Linked DNA regions of Homo sapiens: all the other regions are linked to region 3. The links come from fine-mapping of genetic effects on gene expression. A gene starts in region 3. Each other region holds a variant in brackets. All regions are shown on one strand. Distances are between the middles of the regions. Region 1 overlaps RNASEH2B (ribonuclease H2 subunit B). Region 2 overlaps RNASEH2B (ribonuclease H2 subunit B). Region 3 holds the start of RNASEH2B (ribonuclease H2 subunit B).

Region 1 (8,185 bases), 26 kb before region 3:
TCAATTGACCATATAAGTGTGGGTTTATTTCTAGATTCTCTATTCTATTCCATTTATCTATATATTTATCCTTATACCAACACCAAATTTATTTTATTTTTATTTATTTTTTAAATTTAGGGACAGGGTCTCACTCTGTTACCCAAATTGGAGTGCAATTGTGTGATCACAGTTCACTGTAACCCCGACCTCCTGGGCTCAAGTGATCTTTCCTCCTCAGCCTCCCAAATAGTTGGAACTATAGGCACATACCACCACAGCTGGCTAATTTTTTTTTCTTTTGAAACAGAGTCTCGCTCTGTCACCCAGGCTGGAGGGCAGTGGCGCGATCTTGGCTCACTGCAAGCTCTGCCTCCTGGGTTCATGCCATTCTCCTGCTTCAGCCTCCCGAGTAGCTGGGACTACAGGTGCCCACCACCACACCTGGCTAATGTTCTTTGTATTTTTTAGTAGAGACAGGGTTTCACCGTGTTAGCCAGGATGGTTTCGATCTCCTGACGTCATGATCCACCTGCGCTGGCCTCCCAAAGTGCTGGGATTACAGGCGTGAGCCACCGTGCCTGGCCCACAGCTGCCTAATTTTTAAACTTTCTGTAGAAATGGGGTTTTGCTACTTTGCTCAGGCTGTTCTCGAACTCTCAGCCTCAAGCAATCCTCCTGCTTCGGCCTCCCAAACCGCTAGGATTACAGGCATGAGTCATTGTGCCTGATCTCCACATTTTCTTGATTATAGTAAGTCTTTAATTCAGTTTGTGTAAGTTCTCCAAATTCTTCTTTTTCAAAATTGTTTTGAATATTATAGGTCCTTTACATCAGGGCTCCCCAGTCCCTAAGCCATGTACTGGTACCAATCCATGGCCTGTGAGGAACTGGGCCACACAGCAGGAATGAGTGTCAGGCAAGTGAGCATTACTGGCTGAGCTCTGCCTCCTGTCAGAACAGTGATGGCATTAGATTCTCATAGGAGTGCGAACCCTATTGTCAACTGCACATGCGAGGGATCTAGGTTGTGTGCTCCTTATGAGAATCGAATGCCTGATGATCTGAGGTGGAACAGTTTCACCCCAAAGCCATCCCCCTCCCTGCCCCATCCATGGAAAAATTGTCTTCCTCAAAACCAGTTCCTGCTGCCAAAATTAGGTTGGAGACTGCTGCTTCTGCTGCTTTACATAGTCATATAAATTCTAGAATCAGTTTATCAATACCTACCAAAAAAAAAGAAAAAAAAATGGAGCTGGCTAAGTATTACACTGAATCTATAATGTAATTATATAGTGTAATTATAGTGTAATTTGGGGAAAATAGATACCTTAAAAATATTGAGTCTTCCAATCCACAAACATGGCCTATTTCTCCATTTATTTAATTTTTCTTTAATTTCTCTCAGCAATATTTTGTAATGTTCAGCATATTGGTCTTGAACATATTGTGTTACATTTAGCACTAGAATGTTATTTTTAATGGTAGTATAAATGGTATGTTTTTATTCCATTATCCAATTGTTCAATGTCAGTATATAGAAACACAACTAATATTTGTATATTGAACTTGTATCCTGAAACTTTGCTTATCAATTCTAGTAACTTCTTTTGTAGATTCTTTTGGATTTTTTCATACATGACAATATTGTCTATGAATAAAGACAGTTGTACTACTGACTTTCCAATCTGTATGTCTTTTTCTTGTCTTATTGCACATGCTAGGACATCCACCACATGGTGAATAGAAGTGGTAAGAGCAGGCATCCTTCTCTTGTATCCAGTCTTGGGGGAAGATTGTGTTCAGTCTTTTACAATGAAGATGATGTTAGCTGTTTAAGTTTGCCATAGATGCCCTTGGAAGTTCCCTTTTATTCTTCATTTGCTGATAATATATATCATGACTGAATTTTATCAAATACCTTTTCTGTGTCTTTTGAGATAATCATACAATTTTGTAATGCATAAATATGGTAAATTATGGTAAATGCTCAACCAATTATGAATTCTTGCAATAAAGCCCGCTTAGGTTTTATATATTTAATTTTTAGATATTTGATTTTCCAATATCTTCTTAAGGATGAGGCATTTGAGAATCTTACGTATTTTTCCCCCCATTTAAAAATCTTTTTGAGAATGGGCATGGTGACTCACACCTATAATCTCGGCACTTTAGGAGGCTGAGGCGGGAGGTTCCCTTGAGCCCAGGAGTTCAAGACCAGCTTGGGTAACATAGAGAGACCCCCTCATCTCTCCAAAAAAAATGAAAAAATTAGCCAGGTGTGGTGGCTTGTGCCTGTGGTCTTAGCTACTCAGGAGGCTGAGGTAGGAAGATTGCTTGAGCCCCAGAGATTGAGGCTGCAGTGAGCCGTGATTGTGCCACTGCATTCCATCCTGGGCAACAGAGCAAGACCTTGTCTTAAAAAAATAAAAATAAAAAAATAAAAATAAAAATCTTTTTCTTTCTGTTTTTAAAACTTCCATTATTTTGAGATTCACAGGCTGCAGCTTATTAAGGGAAGAATTTGATAAAAAGAAACTGCCAAACCTCTAGAGATTGAATACATCTTTTACTGTGTGAAATTTATTCTAAAGTATTTTATGTTTTGCCCATCACTTAAAAATAAAGAAAAAAATTGAGGCCTAGGGTTTTTGAAATCTGGCAAATATAAAGGCTAATAATATAGCTACTTTGAAAATGGAAGTACAGAACTTCCAAAAGTTAGGCAATATTGAGAAGCAAAGGAGACTAAGACAAGTTCAGATAATGATGCAATAAATGGTCAGGAGTTCGGTGTACAAGAGGGAAGGGATGACACAGAGAGAGCCTCTTGCTCTCGGCTGCAGACTGTAAGGAAACAAATGCTGAGGCACTAACATTGTTTCTAAATCTGGATTTCTGGGTTTTAAGATGATTGTTCTTATACAGCTAATAGCAGAATTCTGGACAATGAGTTAACTGCATTTTCAGCTTGCATTAAGTTGACAAAAATTAACATGGCTTAATTAAATTATTCTTCATTACTTTATCTTTTAAAAGTGGTTATGGGCTAATTCAGGTCACCCACAAAAAGACTGCTGTCTTCTGCCAAACTCAGCATCAGGGAATGTCTTTAATGGAACTGCTTTGATAAAACCCTGGCACCATATACCCCTCAGTTCCAAACTGGAGCTCCAAGTGTGGCCAAGTATGAATTTACTGGACCCCTTAAACATAAAATGCAATCAATAAGGTTCTTCTCTTTCCCACTGTAAGCTTACACTTCTTGGAATCACCACTTTCTTGGTCCCAGAAGAACTGTCATAGTTGGCCAAACCATCTATGACCCAAACAGCCACAACTTATCAGCCTGATGCTCTGGTTCCCACACTTTGTTTCCATATTAACCCTGAAACTACTTGGATGATTTTTTAAGACACCAAAGCCAAGTTTTTATACTATTTCTAACCTGTCAAAACACATTCACACACACTGCCTTACTTTTCCCTCTGAAAAATTAAATGAATGATAGTGAAAACGCATCTCTTCATTACCCTATCCTGCTCCTCCAGCCCATGTTCCCTGTGTCCAGGATCCCACCACTACACATCCTTTGGGTCAGGCACAAACCGAGAAGTCACTCTTGACTCCTCCTTCTCCTTGACCACCACCCAACAACCAGATGCAGTTGGGTCCATCTCTAAATGGCTACTTTCTTCTTGTTCTATCTCCTAAGATCAAGGCCACCATTATCTCCTGTCTGGATCACTGCAACAGCCTTGGTGGACCTGGCTTCTCCAATATACTCTCCACACTGCAGACTGCCATGCTTAAAACTTCACAGACACTCCACTACCATTAAGCAAAGTCCAAACACACACAGGGCCCTTTACCATCTGGACCCATGCCCAGCATTCCCGCCTCATTCCTTACCAACCTACATCCTTCCCCAGAATCCTATACTTTGAACTCCTTGGAACTTCCTGAACCTGACAAACTTTTCCATACATCTGAGCCTCTGTTACACTGCTTCTCTGACTATCCTTCAGGACTCCATAAAGAGGTCATTTCCCCCAGGAAAGCAACACAACATCTACCCACCTACATTCCCCACCCAACCCCGCCAGATTAGAAACCTGTCCTGTGCATCCCCAGTAAATTCAGAGTTCACTTCCGTTACACTGTGCGGTCACTGCTCAGCTTGTCATTGACCCCCATCAGACTGGGCGCAAAGTGAAGAAAAGGACAATGTCTTATTCATAAGTATCTAGAGCTTAGCACTAATGTGCAACATATGCTTTTTGGAAGGTGCTCGATAAATGCTTCCATCTATTAAGGTACAGGTTTTACGTAATTTTACAATGAGACATCTGAGGCAGAAGGCAGCTGAGTGACTTGCCTGATGTCACAGAACTAGTTCAAAGAAGAAGTGAGACTGAAGCCACACCTTGTGATTCCTGCCCTGTGGACGTAGGCCCTAGACTGCCATGGTTGTAGTTCCAAAGACTAAACACTCCAAAGCAATAGAGGAACAGTGCTGGCAGTGTTAGCAAATCTGAATGATAGTTTTCCCTATGGTGGACACAGAATAAGCCTTACATTCAGTGTGTCTGTAAGCAGCCACGTTCTTAGGCAAGGTCCATCCTTTCTACCAGCCATAAGCCTTTAAGTTATACCATACCTTTTTCCTCTGTCACATGATGAAGTAACTTCTCAAGTCCAGGAAGTTTCAGCAACAAGATGCAATTTGGAAACACGTTATCCACCACAACTTGATCAAGGGGCTGAAACTTCCCCTGAAAAAACAGTTAGTTGGAAAGCAAGCATTTCATTCAACAAAGACATTCAG[A/C]AAAAAAGAGAAAAAGACACATTAACTCATGGCTGGGCCTTTAAACTTAGTGCAGAAGCCACCTATTCCATCTAAGGAATCCCTACAATGGGACAGGCTCTAGGACGGACCCCAGCTCCCTTCAGGAAGCTCCTGTGAGCACTGGAGTCCCACACAGCACACCATCTACCTTGGGTGTACAGTCCCCAAATGAAATGGGGAAGAAAATCAATCTACAAAAGCACTGGAAGCCACAGAAGCTTGCAAAGATGGTGGAGACTGCCTGGGGATGGTCCAACCCATTCAATTTGAAGAACCAGCTGTGGTCACAGAGCAAGAGTCCTGACTGTCACATTGGAACAAGCCCAGACCAGGCCCAGACATACATCTGCCTCCCCATCATCACTCTAGGGATGATGAAAGAAGCACCCGCCACAAAAAGAAAATACAAAAGTGAATCTACCCCTGTCAAAGCTGCCTCACAATGCTTCCAAATTTAGACCAGAATAAAAGAAAAGACAGCCAGAGGGAGAAGTCATGGGAAGCTGCAGACAGGCTAAATCAGGCTCAGCCACAGAAGTTTATATGGCCTGGTTGCCAGTGGGCCAGAAGTGCAGACCATATGGATTCACAACATCATTCTTTGGAATTAGGTCTAGTTTTTCGTAACTGTACTAGTAGCAAGTAGAGGTGAAGTTTGTCTAAATTAAGGTATTAGCCCCCTGATTTGGGGACACCAGACTGTACCAGATGTATGGCCTTGCCCATGACCCACTTCTAGCTCGCTCTACCTCTCGTGTACTGACAACTCCTCCTGAAGACACAAAAACTGCATCTGATCAATTTCTGCAAATGCAGCTTTCTTGGGTTTTAAGGGTAAAATCTTCTCAATCATTTAAGAACACGTGATAGCTTGCCATACTTTCTCTTAGGTTAACTAGTGCCATGAACTATCTCAATTTAAATGTTCTTTTTCCTTCAAATAGTAAGAATAATGCACAGATTTTTCCCAAGTCTTACTGTCTTTAGATTTCTACCTTAAATCTATAGTCTTCCATGATCAATCAATATCTTAAATATTTGACTACTCTAAAACAATATTTATATGTAATGGACTACCATACAATCATGATATAAAATAATTTTGTAATTAACTAGTGTTTCATTCTTATTTTTATTTACCATATATACATTGAAGGAAATGCAATAAGCAACCTGCCTTGACTATAAAGCTAGTAGCAGTGGGATACCTAGAAAAAAAGTTATTTTTACTGATGTTAAAATAAAGTTTAAAAGAACAGGTCACATTTCAAAAGTGTGTATCAATAATTTTTAACTAAATAGGAAATGATCATGTCTAAAATGTAGAGAAGGAAATACCTAAACATCTCAAATGTTACTTTAAAGGGCATTTTTGGCACTTGGGAAGACGTGTTTGGGAAGTACGACGGTTTAAAATGAAAGCCAAAGGCCACCCTGAACAGCATTTCTGCTTCATTCTGCACTTGTCAACGTGAGCTCGCCATAGCACCCTGGAGGTGCCCAGAGTGCCAAGACAGGGTTAATCCCCCAGAGTCATGGTCCTAATGGGAGATGGAGAAATGCTATCAAAAAGGGGAGGGGGAGCCTTAAGTGCAGATCAATACATTTGCTGAGGCTGGTTGGTGTCTTTCTGCTCATTAATTTATCCTAGAAAACACCACATAGGTGAGCCACTGAGGTTTACAAATTCCTCCCTGAATATTCCCCAGGGCGTTCCTGGTGGTGATTAGGACCATTTCTGTTCCTTAAAGACACGAGGCTTACCAGCCTCACAGCTTGTGTGCCCTCGTTATACCGGCCATCACAGTAGCTTCCAGATAATGGGACACATGATTAAACGAAGGGATAAAACTTCACTAATTCACAGTGAAGGGCGGAGGGCAGGGAAGGAGGAGGCTAAAAGAGGCTAAGCTGCATCAAGAGAAAACATGCATTGATACTTTATGACTTTCAGTATTTACAGCAACTTAAATTAATTTACCTACCAAATGGAGGTTTCAGGAATTTGATCTAAGGATTAAGTAAGAAATTTATAAGTGTTCAAACTTTATGCAAACATGAGAGTCCAAAAAAACCAGATTCTTCTAAGCTGTTTGAGTGACACTTATCACTCAAAGTTATTAATTAAAAGATTTTCCAACTATGGTTGATGGATCCCTGGGTCATGAAGTACCTAAGCTCAAAGCTATTTTCCTAATACTGCTAAGACGCTATCTGCATTTTCACTGTGTGGACATCTGCACAGATGATTCAAATGCAATGGTGGGTAAAACTGCTGGCTCTTTAGCACGAGTCTGGTGGTGGCACCAGACTGTCCTAGTCATCATTTGGATCCTCACCGCCATTTATGTGCAGTTTAAAAAATGCCAGTTTCACTTAAGAATATCCTTGAGCAAGTAGTAAAAGCAATTAATTTTACTTAAATCTTGGCCCTTGAACACAAGTCTTGTAAATTATCTGTGATGAAAGTGAGGTATGGCTAAAGGCCTTTGGCTGCTTAACCAAAGATAAGCTGATTACCAGGAAGAGCATGTTCTCCTGGGGCTGGCTGAGTTGCAAGCAGAACCAGCTGCTTTTTCATGGATATCATTTTTATTTGAAAAACCCACTATGAATTACGGTGATTCAGACCCCGGTATTAGGCAGAATATGAACGAAGTGAGCCTGTCATTTCACGGGAAAGATTGACAATATTTGCGGCCAATAATAAAATTTGAGCTTTCAAGCAAAAATTAGAATTGTAGAAAATTTCTATCTGCCACTATGACAGCTTCTCAATACCTAAAGAGCTTTCTGATGAGATCAGTGGTAATATTAACAAAAGGGAGTGTGTGTGTGTGTGTGTGTGTGTGTGTAAAATGAGATGTGTCAACATTTGGAAGATATGCATAACTCAGCAAATCAATATTTTCCAAATGACCAAAGCATGATGTTACAAAATCATACACTGGTAAAAAGATCCATTTTAAGTGCAAGATAGACCAATGCATTTTAATGTAACAGAGCATAGAAAGTTAACTGACAAAGTTTCACATTTCACATTGCAACTAAACTTTAAAAAACTACTTGTTGATTTTTTAGGCAGTATTAAAGAAGAATATCCACAATAATCTAAAAAGGCTGTAACATTATTTCTTCCTTTTCTAACTACAAAGATGTATGGGGCCGCATATTTTTCATATAATCCTACCAAAATAACATATGGAAACAGACTGAATGCAGAATCAGATATAAGAATCCAGTTGTCTTCTAGTTAAGCCAAACACTAAAGAGATTTGCAAAAATGTAAAACAATGCCACACGCCTCATTAAATTTGGTTGTTTGTTTCAATAAAAATGTGTTATTTATGTTAACAT
Region 2 (8,168 bases), 41 kb before region 3:
TTCTTTTGCTTCTACAGGCTCATCTGATAACTTTATTTTCTGCAACATTAGAGCAGTGAAGTGGTGTCAAATGTCACTTTGACACAACATCAATCCATTAAAAAAAAACCCAACATGTATAATTTAGACCTCTACAGAGGCGAATGGGACAGCAGACCCAGCAAAGGGCTTACTTTTTACAGGCTCCTTTACATTTTGCCAATCATCTAGGGAATTGAGCCACACATCACTCCTAAGAAGCAGCCTTGGTGATGGTGGATATGATTGGGTAAGTACATGGCTGAGCCCCTTAGCTGGTCCAGCAAACACAGGCTTTGTAGGTGCCAGGTGTGGTGGGCATGAGGGGATTGCTAATTACCAGATGAATGCAAGGCACAGAAGTCAAAATGAGAATAGTCTCTTGAAGGGGGCCAGGTGTCCAGCCAGAATCCCTATTTCATTTACCTCCTGGGCCAGTTTAATGTCCACTTATGAATGAAGGGACAATATTTATCTTACTTTATCCATGCAAGAACAACCTTGCACAAGCAAGCAGCCAGTAAGAGAGGGAAGCACAGAGAGGCTAAATGAATAGCTTAAGGTCACCAAGTAGAGGACTTTGGCCAAGATTTCAATTCTGATACAGTGTTCTTTCCATTAGGCCCAATGCAACTAAGTCAGACCTTTACTTAATATTTTCTCCTTTCACATGAACATTTTACACCAGTGAATGTGAGAATCTTGTCAAGGCCTTAATGATCACAATATAGAAGAAATCATGCCACACTTATTATGTAAAAGGTACAAAAGCAGGGAAGACAAGTCTTGCTGTTGAACATGGAGAATTGACTGCATGGTGATCACAACCCAGATTTTTATAATTTTCAGGCTGTTTATGGAGACACCAGGTTGACCAGACCCAACATGGATCTAACCTAGGAAACAGACTTCTTCCCAGCTTCATTCTTCATGCCCCTGCTTTGCTAAACAAAGAACGGGTAGAGTTGGTGCTAAAAGATTCCACAGCCCATGGTGTTTTATCCCATAACCCAAGAGGATAAAACACCATGTCTTAAAATTGTTTGCTGTAAAAAAACAGAGGCTCATCCTGGGAATATACCACACACTATAGGAAAACCTCTTGGCCACACAGCAACCTCTAGCAAATGAATCATTAAAAGAAAAAGACTAATCCATCACAAATGAACCACCTATCAGCACCAAGTGAATGTATATTTGCAACTTTGTTAAGAATATATGTTTCAGCTTGGTGCAGTGACTCATGCCTGTAATCCCAGCACTTTGGGAGGCCGAGGTGGGCGGTCACTTGAGGCCAGGAGTTGGAGATCAGCCTGGCCAACATGGCAAAACCCCATCTCTAATAAAAATATAAAAATTAGCTGCGCATGGTGGCATGTGCCTGTAGTCCCAGCTACTCCGGAGACTGAGGCACAAGAATTGCTTGAACCTGAGAAGCAGAGACTGCAGTAAGCTGAGATTGTGCCACTGCACTCCAGCCTAGATGACACGGCAAGACTCTGTCTCAAAAAAAAAAATACATGTTTCTATTTAAATTAAGACAGCAAAGGGTGTTTAGGTGATGCACATTTTTTACTAGAAAGGTATCTTCAGCTAGGAGGGTGAAACTCACAGCTAATAATGCTGAAGGCCAAAATATTTTCAAAACACAAAAAGCTTGAAGTTATGAGGATGCTTGTGTTCCTTCTCTATGGCAAAATGTTCCTAACACAGATGTCATTATAAACACTTAGACATTATTCCCTTTTTTTCTTTAGAGACAGGGTTTCACTGTGTTGCCCAGGCTGGAGTGCGGTGGCTATTCATAGTTGCGATCATCATATACTACAGCCTTGAACTCCTGGGCTCAAGCGACCTTCTGCCTTAGCCTCCTGAGTAGCTAAGACTACAAGTGTGTGCCACTGAACTGATGAGGTTCACTTTTCATTGATAATTCAAATAAAAAGTGTTCATTACAAGAACTTAAGATGAAAGGTACTTTTGTATGGACATAAAATGTTTAATTGGAGAAATGACTTGTTCAGGTGTTTTAATAGCTCACAACAAAACAAGATACCAGTTACAAGTGTTTAAAAAAAGAAAATGATTGTGGTAGCCTCTACATATAACTAGTTTGTATGTTATTCCCAGTGCACTGTTGAATATATTGGAAAAAAAGATGATTGAAGCATTTACTAAAATTTTTGTTATTTAAAAGACCAAATCCCTATGGATTTGGGAGATTGTTTCAGCAGAGAAGTGGCTCAGAAAGACAGTAACAAAGGCTATGACTAAATGGATACAGTTCTGGAAAGAGAACAAACTGCAGAGTACCACAGGGATAATGTTAGGCCTTCTTACAAATGATTTGCAAGAAGGAACTCGGGAACATCTCCAAACCCACTGGTTGCATTCAACTCTGCTTGCTGACAGTGACAAATTGAAAAGACTGGAGCAAGTGAGGGTTGGAAGCTGAGTTTCAACAAAGGCAGACATATGATAGTAAAGGAAAATAATATAAAACATATTAAAGATGACAGGCTCCACGCTATCGATTACAACATAGATACAAAGATACCTAATGACTACTGGAATATATTTCCTGGAAACAGTCAACTATATTACTGTAAAAATCAATCAAATCCTGGATACAGACAGGAAAGCTAGCAGAAGATATGTTCTACGCTTGTTTAAACGATGGTACATCGTCTAGTATAGTTTGTCATGTGTACACTGGAACCCCAGAAAGACACAGAGTAGAAGACCTCGAAAAGCAACTCAAATAATATAGAAGACAAGGCTGGGGTTTAGGAAGAGCAAGATGCCAAAATCAAAATCAGGGCTTGGCAAATGATGGCCCAGGGGCCAAATCCAGCTGGCTGCCTGCTTTTATAAATGAAGTTTTACTGGAACACAGCCATGCTCATTCGTTTATGTATTATCTGTGGCTGTTTTCACAATACAACAGCAGAGTTGAGTAGCTGCAATAGAGTCCATCTGCTTCATGGAGCCTAAAATATTTACTGTCTGGCTTTAGAAGAAAAGGTTTGCTGATC[T/C]CTGATCTAAATCATAAATGATGAAGTCACAAACAACTTAAATTCTGAAAATTAAAATAAGAAAACAGAAATCAGGAGCAGAGAAGAATAAAGTTATGAAACATATTACTCCAAAAGGTATCCAAGGTTAAAGCTTTCAAGAATAGGTTTAGATCAATTCATGAATGATCTCTAAGTTACTAAGGAAGATAGATATTTGGGAGAAAAAAATCTGCTTCATTTTTGGATGAAGAAAAATAAGAAGCACGCTGAGAACCTACCCTCTTAGTTTCAGCAAGACAACTGTGCCTCTCTAGGTCCTCTAGAGCTACTGTCAGAGATTAACTACCGGAATGAAAGACGCATGGGTCTGGCCTAGAGCAGTCCTTAGATCTTACAGCAACAGACTTCTGCCCAGTGCTATTCTCCAAGAGAGTAAAACATGCATTTTTTTTTGACAACATGCTGAACATAGGCCCAAACAAACACTGCTGTACTTTCAATTTTCTGTCCTTTTCTAAGGACAATGTCTTTGGAGCCACCACCACCTTTATACAGGGAATGACATAAAAAATTATGAGCATTTTAGCTACCTTGAAGGCCAAGAAAACAATGCAAGGGAGAAGGAAAGTTTGTAACATCCACAATATGTCCATTTTACATTCTCAAGGCATCCGTTACTTTGCTGGCTGAAGAAATGACCTCACTGACAAGCTGGTGCACATGTTTATTTCCCTGTCTTGGAGCAGAGTTTAACTCATCTGAGATCTGGCCTGGGCTGAAGGAACGCTGCAATTTGCAGTCAGGTGTGGTTTATGATTGGCTTCTCCATTCTCTGGATCTAGGAGATAAACATACCAGCTGCAGAGGAGCTGTGGGTAGCAGCCTGAGAATGAATGAGGAAAAGATTTTCCACTAACAAAGATTACACGTAAATTCATCAATCATTTCAAATTCAGAAAAAAAGTGATCATCTTTGCTCAAAGGATTCTTTGTATTATGGAAATTGTTTTCTGTTCACCTTTGTGCCAGTGACAATTAGATTTGGCAAAATGAGTTTTAGTTATATATAGAGTATGCTTAGTGATTACTAAATTTAATTAAGTGATCTAACTAATGCAGGAAGATTTAATTTTAACTATATGTCTTTAATATTTTCACAGGGGTACCTTGCTAAAACCAACTCTTCTTGGGTTTTCATGGCACTTTATTTACCATTCAGGTGGAATCCACAAAAATAAAAAATAGTGATGGAGAGCCCAGTACAATCTTTATTCCACATGGCATCACTCCATGCAAAATGGATTTAGTACACCTTAAAATATATTAGAACCAACTAAACTCATGTGGTAAGAGTGTAATATTTTTCTAAGTCCCCCAAAGATATCTTAGTCACAGCTTCTTACCTTTGATGGAGGATTTGGCAATGAGGCTGAAGGTTCTGGAAGCCTAAGAAAGTTAAAAATAACAATCAAAGTCATCGTTTTTCATAGACAAACAAACAGAAAGACAGGGCCAACTTAAGACTTAGTAAGTCCTACTTTTCAACTTACAGCTTTACCTCCATATATCTTCCTGTTCAATCAACTCAGTGTAAAGAATGAAAGTTTTCTCAATAAATGAGTCTTTATTTTGATATGTAAGTCCTTGTTTTGGTGTTGTCTGAACTAAAAAATAAAATTAGAACCCATCTGTTGGAACAGAGTTCCTTTTCTTTAGCCTCTATAAATTTGTGTTTCGGTGTTGGAGTATTTTTTCTTCATAGTGAAGATGCTAACATATATTTAAAGGTGAAAATCATTTTAACTGTTCACAAAAAGCCACATAAATTTCAACTTTTCTTCCATTAGAAAGCAGTTTAATTGGCATACCTTTCTTCTGAACTCTTCAACCAAAACTTAAAAATGTTAGTGGAAAGAAAGGAATCTATACAAACAATGGAGTACAAAGACATGAGGTCTCTAACAAGACAAGCAGCATAGAAATCTGGGGATATATTAAGCAGAAGGATATGATTATCAATTTGAAGCAGGCTTTCAGCACACTTTAACTATTATAGAAACCAGTTTCCAATCATTGTTTTTTAAAGTAGGACCTCTGGAATTTGCTAAAACCAACAACTGTATCTATTAAAAAGTCATTTTATCTTCATGACTCAGAGGATAAAAAGGATTTATAAGGATCAGGAAAAGCTATTAAATCATCACACACATAAAATCTTAACAACAAAATTAAGTAACGATTTTGCAAAAATCTAGAAAATAAACACTTCTAACACTTCTTTTTCAACTTAAAGTCTAAATGTATAAGCTCTTTATAAAGAAAGGAACATACATTAAACCATTCTTAAAACCCTTCTTCTGCCCCTCAAAGACACAGATTGTGTTTCATATTACTTTGACTTCCAAGTCTTTGGCATAAAGTCCCTTTAGTGAACATCTAGTGATAATAGTGAAAATGATATCAATATTTTGTAAATTAAAAAAAAGTCTATATTCCATCTACTCTTTCCATCCCTCCTTTCTTCCTCTTAAAACGATCACAAAGAACCAAATTAGTTAAGTATAATTGAGGATAAAATTTTAACATAGTTAATCCTCTAAAATCAGACCAAGCCATAATTCCAATCTTGACATTCACTAGTTCCTGCAATCCGTATCCATCAAATCAGTTCATTCCAATCATCCATTAAAAATCATCCCCAAAGCACAAAGTATATGACATAGCTGAAGAATAATCTTGTATCATAAACAGTGATATGATAAGCCATAAGGAAACCCCACTGCTGGGGAAACCAAGAAGCAAATGGTACTTCATTATGACTGAAGATAATCAATACTCACTTTAAGTATTTAGATAAGTCATCACTTAATTCTTTAGGGATGTAGTCAGATATCAGACCATGGGCATAACGAATATAATCCTCTGAAAGAAACAGAAGGAGGAGTGAAAGCAAAAAAAAAAAATAGTAATTATGGTGGTTTTATAGTCAAATTGACCTGAATTCAAATTCTGACCCTATCTGGATAAAGGGAACTCACTTAAGCTCTAGCCTCAGTTTTCTCATTTGTAAAATGGGGATAGTAATATCTATCGGTCAGACTAGTGGGAAGATATGAGGGATGAGATATGACATGTGATGATACCAAAGATATAAGATAAAACAAGTATAATACAGTAGATGCTCCCTAAATGACATTAAAAACAAAAACTCAGGGTTGCTTTCTTATTTGAAACCACTGAATACAAATAAAGTTTAAAAATCATCTACAACAATATGAAATAGTCATGTCTTTTTTAAAAGGGTAATCTTTTCTAAGCCTGCTTCAATAAAGAATAAATCTAATTATTCAACAGTAATGAGTGTACTCATTTAAGAGAAATAAAATACCATGTCTCTACTACTAGGTATTTGCTTTATAAGAACCCTGAAATATATATATATAGTTCTATACATACATATTGTTCTATATACATAGTTCTACATACACACACACACACACACACACACACACACACACACACTCCCAAACTAATAAAATACTTAAACTTAAACAACTAACTCAGCAGAATTTATCATCATTAATTCTAAAGCATTTGGATTCTCAGTACTAAAATGCAGCTCTGGCAGCAATTAGAAATACAGTTACATAAGAAGACAATAAAATGTTTCAAAACTCTGTTCCTGAATTCAGTATTTTATGTAGAATACAAGCAGATAATCAAACTTAATCATAAGATGGGATAACCACGTGGGGATATAAAGCACCAAAAGCAGACCCCAGGTTTGCTGCTGGGATATTCACTCACTTCCTTTTTTCCATTCTCCTCTGCTCTCAAGTCAAAGTAACAATTTGCCTCAGTATTACATAGAAAATGACTGCCGTCTGGGGACCACCTGATGTCAAAAAGTCTTCAGTAAGAGATTTTCATTGTCAATGGAGAACTGAAAGTTATCATTTGACCCTTCTTAAAATTGCTCATGGATCTGGGATAGTCATTATCCAATGAGTCATGACTAGACCAAGAAAACTATTTTAAGAAAGTCAACATATAGTTCATTTGCTGCTTCTGGTACCAAACCAACCTAAATATCTAAAAAATGAAATAATGTAAAATATGTAAAGTTTACTTTATGGTCAGGACACTAAATGGCAATATAGCCAAGCCCAGAACCTTAATATGTAGAGTACTGGTAAAAGCACTAGACTTAGAACAGAAGATCTTGAGGATAAGTTACCTACCTCTCCATTTAAAAAATGAGATGATCTGTCTAAATAACCTCTAACATCCCTTCTCCTACTTTTAAAACAAAATCTATGGTTCCATCCATCCATCCATGGATGCATCTATCCACCCACCTATCTATCCATTAATCATCTATCTCAATCCCTCATCTTCTATTGTTAAAGCCAATTAAAGACACTGACAGCTGGTAACTCAGTATGGCAAAGGTGCTGTCCACCACTCCCAGAATGGCAGTAGCCAACTACCTATACATGCAAGGTAGATTCCTGCAAATCAGATTGCCTGAATTACTATCAATCACAAACAGGCCACTATTCCTAGTTTTTATTTATGTAATGACTAAAGCCATATGTATACCCTGAATAAGGGAACAATGAATTGGAGTTTAACGTCAGAATAATTTCTGTCTCACCATTTGAGATTGTTAACTGCATTATATAGCTGTTCTTATTCAACTATACATATAAAAATAAGAGGACTCTACTTGGAAAAGAAAATAATATACCTTTTTTAGATTATAAAAGAATAACCTAAAAGAAAAATTGCCAAGTAAATCAATTTTCATCTAAAATCAAAATATATTGATCCCTGTATCAGGAAACATGCATCTTGAGAAGAAAATGCAAACAGATGCAGCCACTGGAACAGTACAACTGTGCCACAGGAACAGTATCACAAAAAGATTACAAGTGTGGGCTTCAGAGACAAGCTCCATAAGTAGCTCAGCTTTGGCATTTACTAGTTGTGAGACTTTGCACAGGGCCTCAAGATGCTCATTATGAAATTTACTGGGAGGGTTGGATGAGATCATGTTTGTATAGTGGCAACTTAGCAAAGGGCCTGGCACACAATACACCCTCAATAAATGATAGCCAGGGTTGTTACTAC
Region 3 (8,185 bases):
CCCCAACAGCAATAAATGCAGTCTTCTAAACGCAATGAATCAGGTGACCTCTCACACCTGGGTACATCCCAACTTAGTAGCATTAACAAGAAAAATGGACTTAAGAAAAACATTAAAAATATGACTCAAACATTTACTTTTAGGGCAGAAAAAGAGGGATGGAAACTTATACTACTTTCCAAAAAGTAAAGTAATGGCCTCTTATAGAAATTAAAACTGCAAACAGGCTAGTATTCCCAGGCCATTTTACAGAAACATTTAAGACCATCCCAAACTAAAAGAAATGCTTGCCTTGCTGAAATGGGAAATGGTTCTGTCTTCACCAGCCTATGAAAACCAACGTCCCAAGTCTGCATATCTCACAGTATCTCTTCCAAGTTCCAGATTTGTTTATCTGAGATAGCCAGCTTCTCCAAACAAACTGAAAACTAGAGGCAAAGATACCTAAATCAAACATTTAAATATATCCTTCAAGATATAACACAGTGCTGTGGCAGGCAACTCGATGAACAGCATGAATTAAATGTTGGAAAAAAGTATCATTGCAAGGTTAGGCATCTTTACCCTTGTCTCACGGATAAATCCCTTTAAAGTTCTGTTGGCCTGTGGGTTCATGTGCTCACTTTTCAGTACACAAAGTAAGTTCTTCAGATCCCAAGTTTTCTAAAACCGAATACAAGCCGCCTCCGCCAAATACTTTTGAAAAATGTTTAATAATCTTTGTTTTCTTTATTAAGGGCCCAGCTTTACTGGAGTATGGTGCTCCCTCAGCCAAGGGCATATCGTTTCCAACTCCCGAATGGGTAACTAAGCAGGCTGATTTCTCATCTTCTGGAAAAGACGACAACTACATCTGGGAAGATGAGCCTCACACTCTGCACTTACATGCACTTCCTTGACCATATAAATTCTGGCCCACCACAAAGAGGGCCAAACATGAGGCTTGTCATTCTTATATCCCAATCTAGTTCCCAAAGTCTTTACTGCAGTGGTTCCTGGGGTGGGGGCAGTGGTTTCCGGACCAGCAGCATCAGTATCTCTTGGGAACTTGTTACCAATGCACATTCTCTGGCCCCAGCCCAGGACCTACTGAACCAGCACCTCTGGGAACTGAGGCCCAGCTCCCCAGGTAAATGATGCCCTCAAGTTTGAGAACTAGTGTTGCACTGCAGTCGCTGTCAAACCTTGTTGTACCCTCAGAGCCTGCAGGTGGCGCTAAAGGCCAGAAGGAAGAATTGCAGGAGCTGGTAGCTCAAGTTTTTAACTGTTAAGAGTTCCTGCCCCCCTGACCACACAGCTCTTTCTAGCAGTTCCAACAGCTGCTCAGCCTCCCCCAATGCCTTAAAAGGTCACAGTAGATCTCAGCTCTGAACAGAAACTCAACTGAAACTCTTCCCACAACCCAGCAGTAGATATATTAAAACCTACAATTTTCAGGGATACAATCAATATTTAATTCTTTTGAGGGTTTTGTGTTTAATACAAGGACACAAACACACGTATAAAATGACGATGTCAATACTGATTAAACAGAACAACAAAATAAGAAGCTCAAATTATCATCAGCTATTGTGTATATCTGAAATAACAATAATGCACTTGATTCTGAAAGAATGATTAGAGTTCCTACTCTGAAAATCTAATTGTCTTGATGTGACGAAGTGAGAAGAAAGGATGATTTTTCTAATGAAAAGCATGTATACGGGTAGCCCTTTGCGAGATTCTGTCAAAACCCTGAATTTTGCATTAGCTGTTTTACCACCCAAACGTTTTTACCGAGGATGTGCAGCAATGGGAACTCTCATACACTGCTTGTGGGAATATAAATCAGTATAACCACTTTGGAAAACCATTTAACATTGTCAACTACAGCTCTACACACAAGTACTAGAACCAGCCATTCCACTCCAGGGTATACACCCTAGAGATATGAGTGCCCATGTCTACCAAAAGCCGCCTAAAGGAATGCTCTGAGAAGTGTAACTTGTAATAGTTGCAAACTGGAAACAACCCAAATGTCCATCCACAGTAGAGATACATAGTATGGATACTCATACAATTAAACAGAAGCAGCAATGAAAAAACTAACCAACCAACCAAACAACTGCTACAACATGAATGAATTTCACAACAAGGATGAATCTTTCAGAGTGAAAGAAGCCAGACACAAAGGGTACACTCTTATTCAAACAGGCAAAACTAATCTCTGGTGACAGAGGTCAGCATAGAGGTTCCTGGGGCTATCTAGGAACAGGCATGAGGCGTTATTGGAAACAGTCTACATCTTGAACTGGGGGATGGTTACTAGGGTGGTGTATACGTATGAAAAGTTCAGTGAGTTGCATACTTAAAATCCGTACACTTTATGTATGTTTTATTTTTAGAGGCAAAAAATATTATTGACAGCCTGTCATGTAAACATTTTCAATAACCATCATAAAACTCTAAATTCCTGGGAAAGAATATTGTTATCAGAGTATATTTACTGCCACAAACACTGCATTTGCTGAGCTAAAGTCAAAACTTAATACAGGGAACAGGAGATGTTCCTTTTTTCCAATGTTACATATATAAAAAGACCAAACCTTTCTGGCTTGCACTCCCTAGGCCAAATTCCTTTAACTGTGTCATTTAATCGGTCCTTCCTTGTGTGGCACTGGCTGTCCACTGTCCCAAGCCCTCGCATGTCCTGGATGGCCGGTCATCATCCACACGGGGGCTGAAAGGCCCGGCTCCAGCACTCCTGTGGTCATCATCCTGCTGAATCGCTTTGAACTACCCTTGGCCTAACCGCGACTCCCATCCCGCTTCCCTCCTGCCTCGCCACTGCAGGCCTGTCCCTTTGCTTTCTTAAAACTGCGCACCGTCTGAGGCCACTTCGAGCCTACTGGATCCCTGGTTCCAACCCAGTAGGATCACAGAAGCAGGGCCAGCTGCCAGGTAGGGGACACCAAGGGCAGAAACCTCCGGGGCCCGCAGCGCACCGGTGACCGCGAACCCGCGTGGCTCCCCTCAGGCTGAGTCGGCTTCCACCCTCCCACCCGAGCCACCGGGGATCAGGGCCCGGGAAACACGCTCGGTCCTTTTCGGCGCTTCCGGGTTTGAAAACCGCGGCTTGCTATGACGTGTGACCAAAATGCGGGGCCAGCTGTCCCAGAGAGAATCCCATCCCGCGCCGGGCCGGGTAGTGGGAGCCACCGGGGTGGGGGGCGGCGCGCCCGGGGTCGCGGGCCGCTCCGCCAGTTCTTGGGCCGACCCCGCCGCCCGGGCGCGCGTGTTTACCTGAAACCAGGAACACGTGCTGCCGGGCGCCAACCCCGTCCCCGCAGTCCACGCCAGCGGCCATGCCGCCCGCCTCTTCCGGGGCGCCGCAGGCTCAGCGCCGCGGGCCTCAGTCTCCCAGCCCCGCCGAAAATGGCGGGAGAAGGGTCTGTTCCGGGTGGCGCGGCGCGCTGAGGGACCGGCAGCGCCCGGGAGGAGGCCCAGGGACCGAATTTCGTTTCGTTTCCGAGACCAGCCTGCTGCTCGTGTTACGTTTTTAAATTTAGCGCCAGGCGAGGGGCTCTGAATGCCGGCCGGTGGCCGCAGGCAACGGGAAGGGGCCGCGGCCTCTCCCTCGCGGCTCCGCTAGTGGTAGGTGCTCATCGCGCGCCGCAGGGCGCCGAGTGACGCGGAGCGGGGCGGGGTCGCCGGGGCCCCGCGCTCTGTGGCTGCACCCAGCGGCCCTCCATGGTCTAGCCAGCGGGCTAGGATTGGGTCTGCGGGGTGTGTGCCCGGACAACGGGTGACGCCCGCCACACCCCCGGGGCCGGGGGACTCACCTGGAGCTAGTCCGTGTTAAGGACAATAGCAGTCACATCGGAATCCGAATGCAACTCTTAGCCATGGTCCTCAATTATTTGTGAATATATATTGGTCATCAGTTGCATTCTGTGTTGCTATTGATGTGAGAATATGTGTGCATTGTGAGCTACAAGGGATGTCCTCAATTTGGACTCCGTCCTCATCACTAAAAGAGGTGCACAGTTTTGGGCTCAGAATATGAATTTGTTGTTTTGGAGAACGCTGTATACTGAGTTAAAAACTTAGACATTTATTTAAAAAGTGATGTTTAAAAAGTTAGAGCCATGAAATTTGGGGATTTAAACTTTTAAAAATAACATTTTAATTGAAAAGTGTTGTTTGGTACATGGTTTTTAAGAAGAAAGTACATATTCCTTTCATACTTTAGAGAAAAGCACGGGCCAGGCGCAGTGGCTCAGGCCTGTAATCCCAGCACTTTGGGAGGCCGAGGCGGGCGGATCGCCTGAGGTCAGGAGCTGGAGACCAGCCTGACCAACAAGGTGAAACTCCGTCTCTACTGAAAATACAAAAATTAGCTGGGTGTGGTGGTGCACATCTGTAATCCCAGCTACTACGGAGGCTGAGGCACAAGAATCACTTGAACCCAGGAGATGGAGGTTGCAGTGAACCGAGATCCCACCACTGCACTCTGGCCTGGGCTACAGAGCTGGACTCTGTCAAAAAAAACAAAAACAAAAAAATCCACAAAAACCTATTTTTTTTTTTTTTAAAGAAAAGCATGATGTATCTCTTTTATCCCAGATCCCAGGGGTAACTGTTAACATTTCTTCTCTATTCTTGCAGAATTTTTCCATGCAAAAACAAGTTAATGTCTTATTTTTGCACAATTGAAAGAATAATATACATAACTCATGCACTTTGCTTTTCATGTTTAATCTTGAAGATAGTTAAATTTAGCAGCACTAAATTTATCTCGGCCCTCTGAAAAGGTTTTTAACTTCAAACCTGTTTCCCATGGGGTGAGACCAATACAGCTGCAGTTGATTGCAGGACACAGCTGGTGGAGAAGAGGCCTTTCTGGCTGAGGAAAGGCGCCTCTTGCCAGTTTTGGGGCAAGGAGCAGCAGATTGGTACTGCTCTGATCTTCCCTCTCCCCCAAAACGACTGTAGAAGATGCTGTGGTGTATAGCACAAATCCCCAGGCACACCATCGTCTTACTAACAGCTACAGGAGCACCCCATTATTCCTGTAGGATGGGATCCAAAACCCCCAGTGAAGGCCTAAAACCGCAAATAGTACCAAACCCTAATATACTGTTTTTTCCTTTGCATGTATATCTGTGATAAAGTTTAATTTGAAAATTAGGCCCAGTAAGAGATGAACAACAATAATAATAAAATAGAACAATTCTCACAGTATGCCAGCATCACTACTCTTGCAGCTACTAAGTGACTCATAAGGAGGGGACCTTCTGCAGTGTGGATCCGCTGGACAAAGGTAGAATTCAGGTCCTTTGCAGGACGAAGCTGGATGGTGCAAGATTTCTTCACACCACTCAGAACACTGTACAATTTAAAACTTACGAATTGTTTCTGGAATTTTTCGTGTAATATTTTTGGACCAAGTTCGACTGGGGGTAACTGACACCTTGGAAAGCGAAACTTCGAATAGGGGGAGCTACTGTACATGAGAAATGTTACCCATGATTCCCTTGCTCAGACATACATACCTGTTTCATTTTTCTCTGATCCTTTCTAGCCCTTGGCTGTATTAATGTATATTTTTGTGGTTGTTGTCACAATTTAGACTGTTTTGTCTGCTTTTCTCACTTAACATTGTCATAAGCATGTGCCCCTTCATATCGAGAAGTATCATTGTTAATGAAGGCATGATATTTAACACAGCTGGTGTACTAGGGTTAGTTATCCATTCCCTAGTGTGCAGTATTTAGGTTATTTCAAACTGTTATTATAAATAATGCTACCATGTGTATTGTATATGGGCTATGTATACAGCAGTTTGACACAGTGATTGGTGTACATATACAAACAGATGCTTTGTATCTAAAGAAAAAAATTTAGATGCAGGAAATTATTTTTAGCAGAATACCATGTAGGTAAATTTAAAAGGCACAAAGAACAACACGATGTAATTTACAAGGATACATGCATATTTAAGGCCATGTCAAGCACATAAAGAAATGGGTGTCTTTACATACATGTGGCCAACAAACATATGAAAAAAGTTCAACATCACTGATCATTAGAGAAATGGAAATCAAAACCACAATGATATACCATCTCATGGCAGTCAAAATGGTGGTTATTAAAAAGTCAAGAAACAACAGATGAGGCCGGGCACGGTGGATCACGCCTGTAATCCCAGCACTTTGGGAGGCCGAGGTGGGCGGATCACCTGAGGTCAGGAGTTCAAGACCAGCCTGACCAACATGGAGAAACCCCATCTCTACTAAAAATACAAAAAATATTAGCCAGGCGTGTTGGTGCGTGTCTGTAATCCCAGCTACTCGGGAGGCTGAGGCAGGAGAATTGCTTGAACCTGGGAGGCAGAGGTTGCAGTGAGCCAAGATCGCGCTATTGCACTCCAGCCTGGGCAACGAGAGCAAAACTCCGTCTCAAAAAAAAAAAAAAAAAAAAAGAAACAACAGATACTGGCAAGACTGGGGAGAAATAGGAACTCTTTTACACTGTTGGTGGGAATGTAAATTAGTTCAACCATTGTGGAAGACAGTGTGGTGATTCCTCAAAGATTTAGAGCTGGAAATACCATTTGACTCAGCGATCCCATTACTGGGTATATACCTAAAGGAATATAAATCATTTTATTATAAAGATACATGCATGTGTATGTTCATTGCAGCACTATTCACAATAGCAAAGACATGGAATCAACCCAAATGCCCATCGATGATAGACTGGATAAAGAAAATGTACACATACACCACAGAATACCATGCAGCCATAAAAAGGAATGAGATCATGTACTTTGCAGAGACATGGATGAAGCTGGAGGTCATTATCCTCAGCAAACGAATGCAGACGCAGAAAACCAAACACCGCATGTTCTAACTTATAAGTGGGAGCTGAACAATGAGAACACATGGACACAGGGAGGGGAACAACACACACTGGGGCCTGTAAGCGGAGGGTGGTCGGGGAGGAGATCATTAGAGAAAAGAGCTAATGCATACTGAGTTTAATGCTTAGGTGATGGGGTGATAGGTGAAGCAAACTGCCATGGCACACGTTTACCTATGGAACAAACCTGCACATCCTGCACATATACTCTGGGACTTAAATAAAATATGGGTGTCTTTAATATGGAGAGGAATGGGAGAAAGCATGGGTAAGGAATGAGGGGCAGGAGAAATTAAATGAGAGGCCCAGGCTCGTACGGGTAACGGTTGCTATACTCTGTGAATGAGAAAACAATGAACTCTGCCCTTTCTGTAAATAATTTCCTTTATCATTAAAAAAAATTATGTAAGTACCTTTTTGAAAAGGATACCATTACTGATAGGCTGACTCCAGATCCCTGTTGTCTTCAAGGTAAAGTCTAAGGTGCTAAGCTTTGAACACATGGCCCTTGAGATCCGGTCCTGGCTGGACTCCCCAGCTACAGTTCCCACCACCTATGTCGCTCTCCACCCAGTCCACAGTGTGGCCACAAGGAACTGCCTGTGGTTCTCTTCTCTGTCACATCTAGCACTTGGTATTGTGTCCCCAATGCTGAGACCATCCTGTTCTCCACAAGCATCATTCCTTCCCTTCTCCCTTACCCTTTACCACTGCCAGGACAACTCTCACTCATCCATCAGGTCTTACTAAGTGCCTTCTCTTCCTGCCTCCTAATACTCTTCCCAAGAATAAGTGAGATGCCTCCAATTTCACCAGTGAGAGGAACCAGTCAGTTCCTTGAGGGAAGAATAGCATCTAGTAATTCACCACTATCTTGTCAAAAAATAACAATGGCTTCACTGAGTATTAACTATGCTGAGCACTGCACTAAGCAGTTAACTCGAATGACCTCTTTCAGCCCTCCCACAGCATTAAGGGTAAGTATTATTTAGTCACCCACATTTTACAGAGGAAGAATGTAGAGTCGAGAGAGATCAAGTACCTGCCTATGATGACATGACTAGCAAGTGGCTGAGCAGGAATTCCAACCCAGGCCTTAGGACTCCAGAGACTGGGCTCTTCACCTTCCTTCCCTCCCTGGTGTCCCCATGCCTGGGACAAAATAATATGGAAACATAGCATGTGCTCAGCAAATATTTTTTGAGTAAATATTTATGCGGATAGCTAAGCTGTCGTGGCTTGTGGTATTCCCAATTTTATAAATCAAAACAAATTGATTACA

What was found. PIP is the estimated chance that this variant, and not a neighbour inherited with it, causes the effect.
Region 1: its variant is fine-mapped to the expression of RNASEH2B in whole blood (INTERVAL, PIP 0.96).
Region 2: its variant is fine-mapped to the expression of RNASEH2B in whole blood (INTERVAL, PIP 0.97).

What each region holds. Positions count from the first base shown.
Region 1 is chr13:50,931,454-50,939,638 of GRCh38, reverse strand. RNASEH2B (ribonuclease H2 subunit B) reads right to left here. Exons shown (of 11, transcript NM_024570.4): 5 at 4,640-4,754. Among named protein-coding and RNA genes, the nearest start is that of RNASEH2B-AS1, 25 kb to the right of the region's middle. The variant A/C (reference allele first, on the strand shown) is at 4,808.
Region 2 is chr13:50,945,776-50,953,943 of GRCh38, reverse strand. It overlaps RNASEH2B (ribonuclease H2 subunit B), which reads right to left. Exons shown (of 11, transcript NM_024570.4): 8 at 5,876-5,957; 9 at 4,439-4,481; 10 at 1-39. Among named protein-coding and RNA genes, the nearest start is that of RNASEH2B-AS1, 39 kb to the right of the region's middle. The variant T/C (reference allele first, on the strand shown) is at 3,054.
Region 3 is chr13:50,905,238-50,913,422 of GRCh38, reverse strand. It overlaps RNASEH2B (ribonuclease H2 subunit B), which reads right to left and starts at 3,632. Exons shown (of 11, transcript NM_024570.4): 1 at 3,283-3,632. The coding sequence starts at 3,346. RNASEH2B-AS1 (RNASEH2B antisense RNA 1) reads left to right here and starts at 2,711. Exons shown (of 3, transcript NR_046552.1): 1 at 2,711-2,940. RefSeq lists silencers at 2,878-2,927, 3,138-3,377, 3,388-3,817.